3 linked regions of the Homo sapiens genome follow. The protein of the gene in region 3 purifies or fractionates together with the protein of the main gene of each other region. This does not show direct contact. Each region holds a gene or a part of one and is shown on either strand. Other genes may lie near its edges. The genes, in order: ETFB, ARF4 and SUGCT.

Region 1 (2,518 bases), on a different chromosome or scaffold from region 3:
CTCCAGCGTCACCTGGGAGGCGAATGTGCCCTGGGGAGGGACAGTGTAGGAGGAGAGTGGGTGAGGCTAATTCAGGTCCGACCCGAGCAGTCTGCTTATGCCACTACTGAGTACACGCATGGACTAGTGAATGAATGAGGGAGCGAACAATGCAGGGTCCCATGAGGTTTAGAATCGAGCTTGTACACCTGGGAGAGGGTCTTTTTCCTTTCCCTGAGAGCCACGGTGTATGTCCTGATGTCCCATGTCCTGATGCTGCCAGTGAGGCCTCCCTGCCTTCCTGACAGGGAACATGTACTGAGTGCTGAGCCCTGTGCTAAGCAACTGATGTATCAAGTCATCGAATCCTCGCAGGAACTTTATGAGGTAAATGTTATTATCCCCACTTTACAGATGAGAGAAACTGAGGCAGCAAGATGCTGAGTTACACGCCCACTGCCACCCACAGCTGGTAAATCCAAAAGCTGACAATCTGGCTCCCAACGGCCCCCCGTGAGGCCCCTCCGCTGGGCAGACAACAGAACTGTGTGTGTCCACACCAGTCCTTAAACCACCTTCTGGGACCCCGTCCTCTAGCCAGGTCCCTTTGCCTCTCAGTCCTGAATCAACATTTCCTCCCCTGGTAACTGATGCCACCTACACTCCTCTTTGTCTAACGACCTTTGTCCCTGTCCACTTATTAACTGGACACATTTTTCAGGTCTTAGTGTGAACATCACCTCCCTTCATTCACAACCTCCTCCTAGTGCCCTTATGAACCTGCCCCTGGAGACACACTGTGAACACGACCAGTGAAGCACCAGCTTGGGTGGGCTCATATTCTGCCAGGGAAGACAACCAGTCACCAGGGAAAAACACACACACACAAATGAGATCATTTCCAATCAGAAGGAATAAGAAGAAAATAAGACACATGATATGAGAGCAAGAAGGGCGCACGTTGGAGAAGCTAGTCAGACAGTGGTAAATGCTTTGAAGATAAAACAGGATAATGGTTTTGAATGTGTTGTCCCATCCAGTAGCCACTGGCTGCGTGTGGCTGTCCAGCCAGTGCAGCTGAGGAATGAATTTTTACATTTTATTTAAATTTAAATACTGATAATTTGGCCAGGCGCAGTGGTTCATGCCTGTAATCCCAGCACTTTGAGGGGCCAAGGCGGGTGGATCACTTGAGGTCAGGAGTTCAAGACCAGCCTGGCCAACATGGCGAAACCCTGTCTCTACTAAAAATACAAAAATTATCCAGGTATGGTGATGCACGCTTGTAATCCGATCTACTCGGGAGGCTGAGGCAGGAGAATCGCTTAAATTCGGGAGGCGGAGGCTGCAGTGAGCCAAGATCGCGCCACTGCACTCCAGTCTGGGGACAGAACAAGACTCCACCTCAAAAAAATAAAAATAAATAAATACTGAGAATTCAAGACACATTATCATGATTGTGGTGATGATTTCATGGATGTAACACATATCAAAACTTAAATTTTGGAGGGCTGAGGTGAGCAGCTTGCTTGAGCCCAGGAGTTAAAGACCAGCTTGGGCAACATAGTGAGACCCCCATCTCTATCTAAATAAAAGAGTTTAAGAAAAGCAAACTTAACAAATTGTGCAACTTAGATATGTGCGGTTTATTGTAGGTAAATAACTCAACGAAGCTGTTTAAAAAAAAAACAAAAACAAACAAACAAACAAACAAAAAAACACAGATACCCAATGCAGTTACTGGAAATGCAGTTACTAGAAAACTTTTAAGTTTGTTTTGAACAACTTGGGTGTGTAAATCTATTTCAACTGTCATCTTTAGGAATGTGTTTCTCATAGAAATTTAGCACCTGAATTGAGATGTGCTGTAAATATAAAATACATGCTGAATTTTGAAGATTTAGTACAAAGAAAATCCAAAAAACGTAAAATACAGATGGTCCCTGACTTATGATGGTTTGAATTAAGATTTTTCAGTTTTCCGATGATGTGACAGTGATAAACATTCAGTAGAAACCATACTGCCAGTGTCCGTACAACCATTCCGTTTTTTTAGTTCCAGTACAGTATTTGATAAATTACATGGGATATTTAGCACTTTATTATAAAATGTGCTTTATGTTAGATTATTTTACCCCACTGTAGGCTAACGTTAAGTGTTGTGACATGTTTAAGGTAGGCTGGGCTCAGCTATGATATTTGGTAGATTAAGAATATTAAATGCATTCTCTCAGTTATAATATTTTCAATTTATGATGGATTTATCAGGACGTAACCCCATTGCTTGTAGAGCATATGTATCTTAATATTTTTATGTTGATTACATGTTAAAATAATATTTTAGATATAATGGGGTGAAATAAAATATAATTTTGTCTGTTTCTTTTTACTTTTTTATGTAGCTGTGAAAAATTTTAAATTTGTCTATGTGCCTTGCTTCTTTTTTTTTTTTTCTTTTGAGACAGGGTTTCCCTCTTTCACCTAGGCTGGAGTACAGTGGTATGATCACAGCTCACTGCAGTCTTGACCTCCTGAACTC
Region 2 (3,658 bases), on a different chromosome or scaffold from region 3:
AAAAAAAAAAAAAAGTAAATCCAAAAATACTGACAAAGAAAAGAATTGAAGAAATCCAAGACAAATCATGACTATATCATTTTAAATTATACAAAAGCATGTAGGTAATCCAAGTTTTCTTTTAATAGGTTTTATATGTGCTTGTATGAATACTGTATGAATAATTATTTTCCTTGCTCCTCTACTGATAGGAATTTTTTTTTACCCAAAAATCATGTATTACTTTTATGAAAAGAGAAAAAAAATTGTCCAAGCAGATTTTTTTTAATTAAAATGTTGGGCTGTTTACATTTCCTGATGTATCTTTTTGAAGACGACTGCTTGAGGGCTTTAAATATATAATATTTTACATACTCATTTTACTTTTTTAAAAAGGGAAGTGTTTACAAAATCATGCAACCATTTCTAGGTCACCCCAGAATTCAAGGGGAAAAAATAATGCGCCCATAATGACTTTTAAGTATCCACAAATTATTTTCTAAATATAAATTACAAGACAACAGTTTAATGGCTCACAGCAACACAGAATGTATCTTATGCAGTTGTATCAAAAATAACAATGCTGTATAAATGCAAATTAAGAGTTTTTGAAAAAGGTATTTATAAGCTTTAATGCACGAATTAAACATATACAGTCATCACTTAAAACTTATAGTTCTTTACTCAAAAACATATTGGTCCAACAATTTTGAGCCACTTCAGTCATTTCTTATGTATTTCCTTAATGTTGCAATATTTGGCAATGAAATTTCTCCACAAAATGAAAACTATTACCAATTTTCAACTAGCCAAGATAAGACTAATCTGTATAGCCCAGCAATGGTCTCCCTCCCCTCCGTGTCCAGAAACAAGCAACTGTATTTAAAGATGTACTGGAATACTTGTTCTCCTTAACTAGACCTGCACTTTGACCAAAGTGTTACTATAGCAGGAAAACTACCTCAGAAATCTTTGCTGGCCAGGCAGTCACTCACACCTGTAATCCTAGCACTTTGGGAGGCTGAGGCAGGCGGATCGCTTGAGCCCAGGAGTTTGAAACCAGCCTGGTCAACATAGCGAGATCCATCTTTAAAGAAGAAAAAGTAAATTAGCTGGGAAGCTGTGCATGGTGGCTCACACCTGTAATCCCAGCATGTTGGGAGGCTGAGGCAGGTGGATGACCTGAGCTCAGGAGTTTGTGACCAGCCTGGACAACATGGCAAAACCCTGTCACTACAAAAAATACAAAAATTAGCCAGGTGTGAGTGGGGCACAGTGGCTCACACCTGTAATCCCAGCACTTTGGGAAGCCAAGGCGGGTGGATCACCTGAAGTCAGGAGTCAGAGACCAGCCTGACCAACATGGAGAAAGCCCGTCTCTACTCACACCTGTAATCCCAGCATGTTGGGAGGCTGAGGCAGGTGGATGACCTGAGCTCAGGAGTTTGTGACCAGCCTGGACAACATGGCAAAACCCTGTCACTACAAAAAATACAAAAATTAGCCAGGTGTGAGTGAGGCACAGTGGCTCACACCTGTAATCCCAGCACTTTGGGAAGCCAAGGCAGGTGGATCACCTGAAGTCAGGAATTAGAGACCAGCCTGACCAACATGGAGAAAGCCCGTCTCTACTAAAAATACAAAATTAGCTGGGTGTAGTGGCACATGCCTGTAATCCCAGCTACTCGGGAGGCTGAGGCAGGAGAATTGCTTGAACCTGAGAGGCGGAGGTCGCAGTGAGCTGAGATCGCGCCATTACACTCCAACCTGGGCAACAGGAGCAAAACTCCGTCTCAAAAAAAAAAAAAAATTAGCCGGTTGTGATGGCACATGCCTGTAGTCCCAGCTACTGGGTGAGGCTGAGATGGGAGGATCACTTGACCCCAGGAGGTCAAGGCTGCAGTGAGCTGTGATCGCACCACTGTGCTTCAGCCTGGGCAACAGAATTGAGACCCTGTCTCAAAACAAACAAAAATTAGGCAGGGTGGTGCCCATCTATATTCCCAGCTACGTGGGAGGCTGAGGCAGGAGGATCCCTTGAGCCCAGGGGATCAAGGCTGCAGCGAGCCATGATCACACCACTGCAATTCAGCGTAAGCAACAGAGCAAGATCCTGTCTCAAACAAACAAGGCCGGGCCCCGTGGCTCACACCTGTAATCCCAGCACTTTGGGAGGCTGAAGTGGGTGGATCACGAGGTCAGCAGTTCGCGACCAGCCTGGCCAACGTGGTGAAACCCAGTCTCTACTAAAAATACAAAAATTAGCTAGGCGTGGTGGCTGGCGCCTGTAAACCCAGCTACTTGGGAGGCTGAGGCAGGAGAATCGCTTGAACCCGGGAGGTGGAGGTTACAGTGAGCCCATACCGCGCCACGGCACTCCAGCCTGGGCAACAAAGCGAGACTCCGTCTCAAAAAAACAAACAAAAAACCCAAAAAAACAAACCTTTGCCCATAATTATGGCAGCAAGAAATACTTACATTTTAAATTTAAAAAGTTAGATCCAGCCGGGCACGGTGGCTCACACCTGAAATCCCAGCACTTTAGGAGGCCGAGGAGGGTGGATCATGAGGCCAGGAGTTTGAAACCAGCCTGGCCAACATGGTGAAACCCCATCTCTACTAAAAATACAAAAATTAGCCAGGCATGGTGGCGGGCGCCTGTAATCCCAGCTACTCGGGAGGCTGAGGCAGGAGAATTGCTTGAACCCGGGAGGTGGAGGCGCAGTGAGTCGAGATCATGCCACTGCACTCCAGCCTGGGCAACAGACCAAGACTCTGTCTCAATAAATAAATAAATAAATAAATAAATAAATAAATAAATAAATAAAACAAAAAACAAAAAAAGAACATCTATAAAAAACCTACAGCTAGTATCATAATTAGTGATGAAAAATTGAGGCCGGGTGCAGTGGCTCACACCTGTAATCCCAGCACTTTGGGAGGCTGAGGTGGATGGATCATGAGGTCAGGAGTTTGAGACCAGCCTGGCCAAGATGGTGAAACCCTGTCTCTACTAAAAAATACAAAAATTAGCCGGGCGCAGTGGCGGGTGCCTGTAATCCCAGCTACTTGGGAGGCTGAGGCAGGAGAATCGCTTGAACCCGGGAGGCGGAGTCTGTAGTGAGCCGAGATTGCGCCACTGCACTCTAGCCTAGGCAACAAAGCAAGACTCCGTCTCAAAAAAAGAAAAAAGTTAGATCCAATGATCTCAACTTTGAGGGAGAAAAAAATATTGCAGAAAGGAGTAAGACTGGAAAGACAAAAGAGTATTTTCAGATGGATAAAAAGATTTTTCATGTTTTCCTTTATCTTTCAAATTATCTACAAGTTTGAAATATACCTTCATAATTATAAGTGTGTGTGTGTACATATATATACATTTGTTTTTTGAGACAGGGTCTCGATCTGTCACCCAGCCTGGAGTGCAGTGGTGCAAACATGGCTCACTGTAGCCTCAAACTCCTGGGCTCCAGCAATCCTCCCACCTCAGCCTCCCTAGTAGCTGGGTCTACAGGGGCACGCCACCATGCCCAGCTAATTTTTAAAATTTTTTTGTAGAGATGAGGTCTTGCCATGGTATGGTGCCCAGGCTGCGTAATAGTTTAAAATAATAATTTAAAATTGAATATTTACTGCATTCTAAGCATAGTAGGTGATTCTATACATTTTTGGACTTTAA
Region 3 (3,658 bases):
CAGGCGCGGTGGCTCATGGTTGTACTCCCAGCACTTTGGGAGGCTGAGGCAGATGGATCACAAGGTTAGGAGTTCGAGACCAGCCTGGCCAACATAGTGAAACCCCGTCTCTAGTAAAAATACAAAAAAATAGTCAGGCGTGGTGGTGGGCACCTGTAATCCCAGCTACTTGGGAGGCTGAGGCAGGAGAATTGCTTGAACCCAGGAGTGGGAGGCTGCAGTGAGCTGAGATTGTGCCATTGCACTCTAGCCTGGGCGACAGACAGTGCAAGACTCCATCTCAAAAAAAAAAAAAAAAAGTGTGCTTCTTATCACATTTACAGGTAATATATGAAGATTGAGGGAGAGGGAATTCTTTTTTTTTTTTTTTGAGACAGGGTCTGACTCCAGTAGCCCATGTTATAAATAAAGGTTTGGTGCCACAAAAGAAATAGCACTGGAATATAAAATTTTCTTTTTAATTCTCAGCAAGGCAATGTACTTCTATAGAAGAATGCGCCCTTACAGATGGAACAATGGTGAGCACACACCTGGACAAGGGAGGGGAAGGGGTTCTTATCCCTGATGCACGTGGCCCCGCTGCTGTGTCATTCCCCTATTGGCTAGGTTTAGACCACACAGGCTAAACTAATTCCAATTGGCTAATTTAAAGAGAGTGACGGGGTGAGTGGTTTGGCAGGAAAAATGGTTATGGCAGAGCAGGAAATCTGAATGAGTCAGGGTGGAGAATGAGCAGGTAATCGGAATGACTTAGGGTGGAATAGGTAACTGGAATTAGTCATGGTGGAGCAGGTAATCAGAATGAGTCAAGGTGAAGCAGGTAATCGGAATGAGTCAGGGTGGAGCAGGTAATTGGAATGAGTCAGGGTAGAGCAGATAATTGAAAAAGGTTGCTTTACCAGGAAGTTAAGTTTAAAACTAGAAAGCAAAGAATTGAACCTACTGACAAACTGATTCTTTGAAGAGAAATTTAGAACTCATATCTAACATTCTGTCCTCTTGCATTTCCTTACGGCTCTTTTTCTTCAAACTTCTTTAACATGTCTTGGCTTAGTTGTTCTACAGATTTTCCAAAAGAAGAAGCTTCTTTACATAAGGCAGAGAATAGTTAAGGGAGGTTTTAGTAAGTGCTGTTTTTATGAGCCTCTGCACCAACCCATGGATGCATGGTGTGACACAGCACCTGACAAGAGTAAGTACACCCATTATGGCTGCGAGGGAAGTAAGAACTGAGGCTATTATTCTTTTCCACTTACTGAACCACTTTTCTAGCCATCCTGTAAAGGAGTCATTTACCCCTGAGTTGTTGGCTAACTCATTGGACACAGCACTCAGACCTTGCAATGCCTTTGTTATACTTCCATCAGGGACAGTGTTGTTTGGGATGAAGGTACAACATTTGTGTTTTAATCATGATACAAACTCCTCCTCTTTCTGCTAATATCATGTCTAAGGCTATCCTATTTTCCCAAGCCATGTGGCTTGTAGCCCCTAATTACTCAGCTATTCCTTTAACAGCATCTCTAGTATAGTTAATAAATTGCTGTTGGTTGTAATAGATGTAGTTTATCCAATCTACATTTTTATTAATTGTCACCCACCAAAATATTGACTCAAATTCTGTAGCTATTTGATTTTGGGGTTTAAATTGATCTGGTATTCCCTGTGGGACTCCAATTGCATTTAAATAGATGTGAGAGTCGAAAGACCCATAAGAGGCTTCCCTTGCTTTATGACGTCTGGTTTTTCCTTCCTCTGCTTGATGAAAGGCCAGAGTAAAAGGGATAGCCGATTGGACTAGAGCATAAATACTGCTCTAATTATTTGGCAGAGTGTCCAGTAAAGGTCCTCCATAATCCCACCATACATCCGCTTAGGGATGAATAAGGGCAGACTGATAGGTCAGCTCTTGGAAGTGCCACACTTCACTGCATCCTGTTAAGTCTCCAAGGAATGCCAAATTTTTCCCTTGGTCGTTGGAGACATGAGGTAAAATTGATTTTGGAAAATGGAGGCTGGATGGCCCTTGGGGGCTGACCCGCAGCATGCTGGACTTTGGGATATAGCAGAGAGAGAGTGTGGCACAACTTGTTACTCTAGGCTGTAGAATCCTGGAAAAGAGCTACCATGCAGCCCATGCCTGGTTGACTGGATGACCACCCTAGTGGAAAGGGGACAGTCTGGGCCTCTGGCCTGCGGTGCGCACAAGCATAACAATTGCTTTTGTTTAACGTGCAGACGGAATATTTGATCCATTCCAACCAGGCATTTGCATCTTGGTATCTTGTCTTAATTGCCGAAGTTTGTTTTAAGTCTTTAACTTGTATGATAGCTATCTTGGTCTTGTCGTTAGATGGAGGAGTGGCAATTGTTCAGTTGTGAGAGGTTTTGGAAGAAGGCTTAGAGGAAGGTGCAGGCACTGGGGGATCAAATAAACACATTTCAAAGAATCCAATAGGGTCTGTCCCTGAAACCTCAGCCCCCATACCATAAAACTGGCTTAAAGAAGGGAACTGGCTTAGAAAAGGGGAAGAAGTTTGAGGGTTCGAGATAATAACCTGTATTGGAATGCACTGGTTTAGCTGACCCCCAGTTGGGGGTTGGCTGTCCCTCTAGTAAAATGAATGTATGGTTTTAGGAAATTACAAAAACTGGTTGGGGCAGTCCATCCTTGCTCTTTAGTGGTCCACAGAATGTTGGACAAACTACGGCATAAAAGCTCTACACTGGGGGGCAAGACTCCTGGTTGACACTGGGGTCTTTACCAAAATCTCCCTGGATTAAGTGGTCTCAATTCACTAATGTCTAGTCTCAGGAGAGTCAGGAGGGAGAGAGGTACTTTTCTGAAGTAGAGAGCTGTCTTTGACTTGGCAAGTCCCCACAGGGTATAACAAGGCAAGCATCAAATGCAATAGTTTGAAGAGAAATTGACTTGGTTATGTTAATAACTAGATGGTCAGCAATAGAGCGAGGAAAGAAGAAAGAGTAATAGAATAGATGAAAGAGAGTGAAATTTTTCTTTGCTTTAGTTTGGTAGGGTTTTCCCCTGGGACTATGGCCCATGACTCTGGAGGGGGCGGCGCTTTCTTGACTCAGGTGTGATGAGTCTATTCCCTTTCCCACTGTAAGAACAGCAGTCTTGGTGGTTAGCAGCACAAGGTAGGGTCCTTCCCAGGGTGGCTGGAGTTTTCCTTCTTTCCACCCTTTGATGAGACCATGATCTTCAGGCTGTTGCTGGTTTACCGGAAATTCTAGGGGTGGTACCTGTGCTAAAAGACTTTTAGTTTTGAGGGAAAGGAAAGTGGAAGATAAACCAAGTATACAATTTCTAAGAAATTGATCTTTTGTTTTAAATGTGGGGACATCAGCAGTGGACTTTATAGTCCTTGGTGTCTTCTTACTGAGAAATTTCCTTTAGCACCTATTTTTATTAGTTTTTAGACCAAAGAAAGCCAAATACCATTTTATATTTGACAATGCTTCCTGTATGATTTTTATACCAGAAAAGCTAAATTTCACCTTTATATTAGTGTGCTATTAGTGATAAACTTAATTTTAATAAAACTTGTAGACACATTTATCCAATTTTTAATGTCTGACCATAAGGTAAGATTTTTATAGACTCTTTTTAACCTTGTATAATTTTTGTTAAAGAGCA

What was found.
Region 1: the proteins of SUGCT (region 3) and ETFB purify together in Homo sapiens (co-immunoprecipitation; one large-scale study listed by IntAct). This does not show direct contact.
Region 2: the proteins of SUGCT (region 3) and ARF4 purify together in Homo sapiens (co-immunoprecipitation; one large-scale study listed by IntAct). This does not show direct contact.

What each region holds. Positions count from the first base shown.
Region 1 is NC_000019.10:51,347,029-51,349,546, forward strand, and holds part of ETFB (electron transfer flavoprotein subunit beta), read right to left. Parts: intron 31-2,518; coding exon 1-30. UniProt on the Homo sapiens protein: Heterodimeric electron transfer flavoprotein that accepts electrons from several mitochondrial dehydrogenases, including acyl-CoA dehydrogenases, glutaryl-CoA and sarcosine dehydrogenase.
Region 2 is NC_000003.12:57,587,329-57,590,986, forward strand, and holds part of ARF4 (ADP-ribosylation factor 4), read right to left. Parts: intron 1-3,658.
Region 3 is NC_000007.14:40,141,356-40,145,013, forward strand, and holds part of SUGCT (succinyl-CoA:glutarate CoA-transferase), read left to right. Parts: intron 1-374; exon of another isoform or gene 375-475; coding exon of another isoform or gene 476-518; intron 519-3,658. UniProt on the Homo sapiens protein: Coenzyme A (CoA) transferase that reversibly catalyzes the transfer of a CoA moiety from a dicarboxyl-CoA to a dicarboxylate in a metabolite recycling process.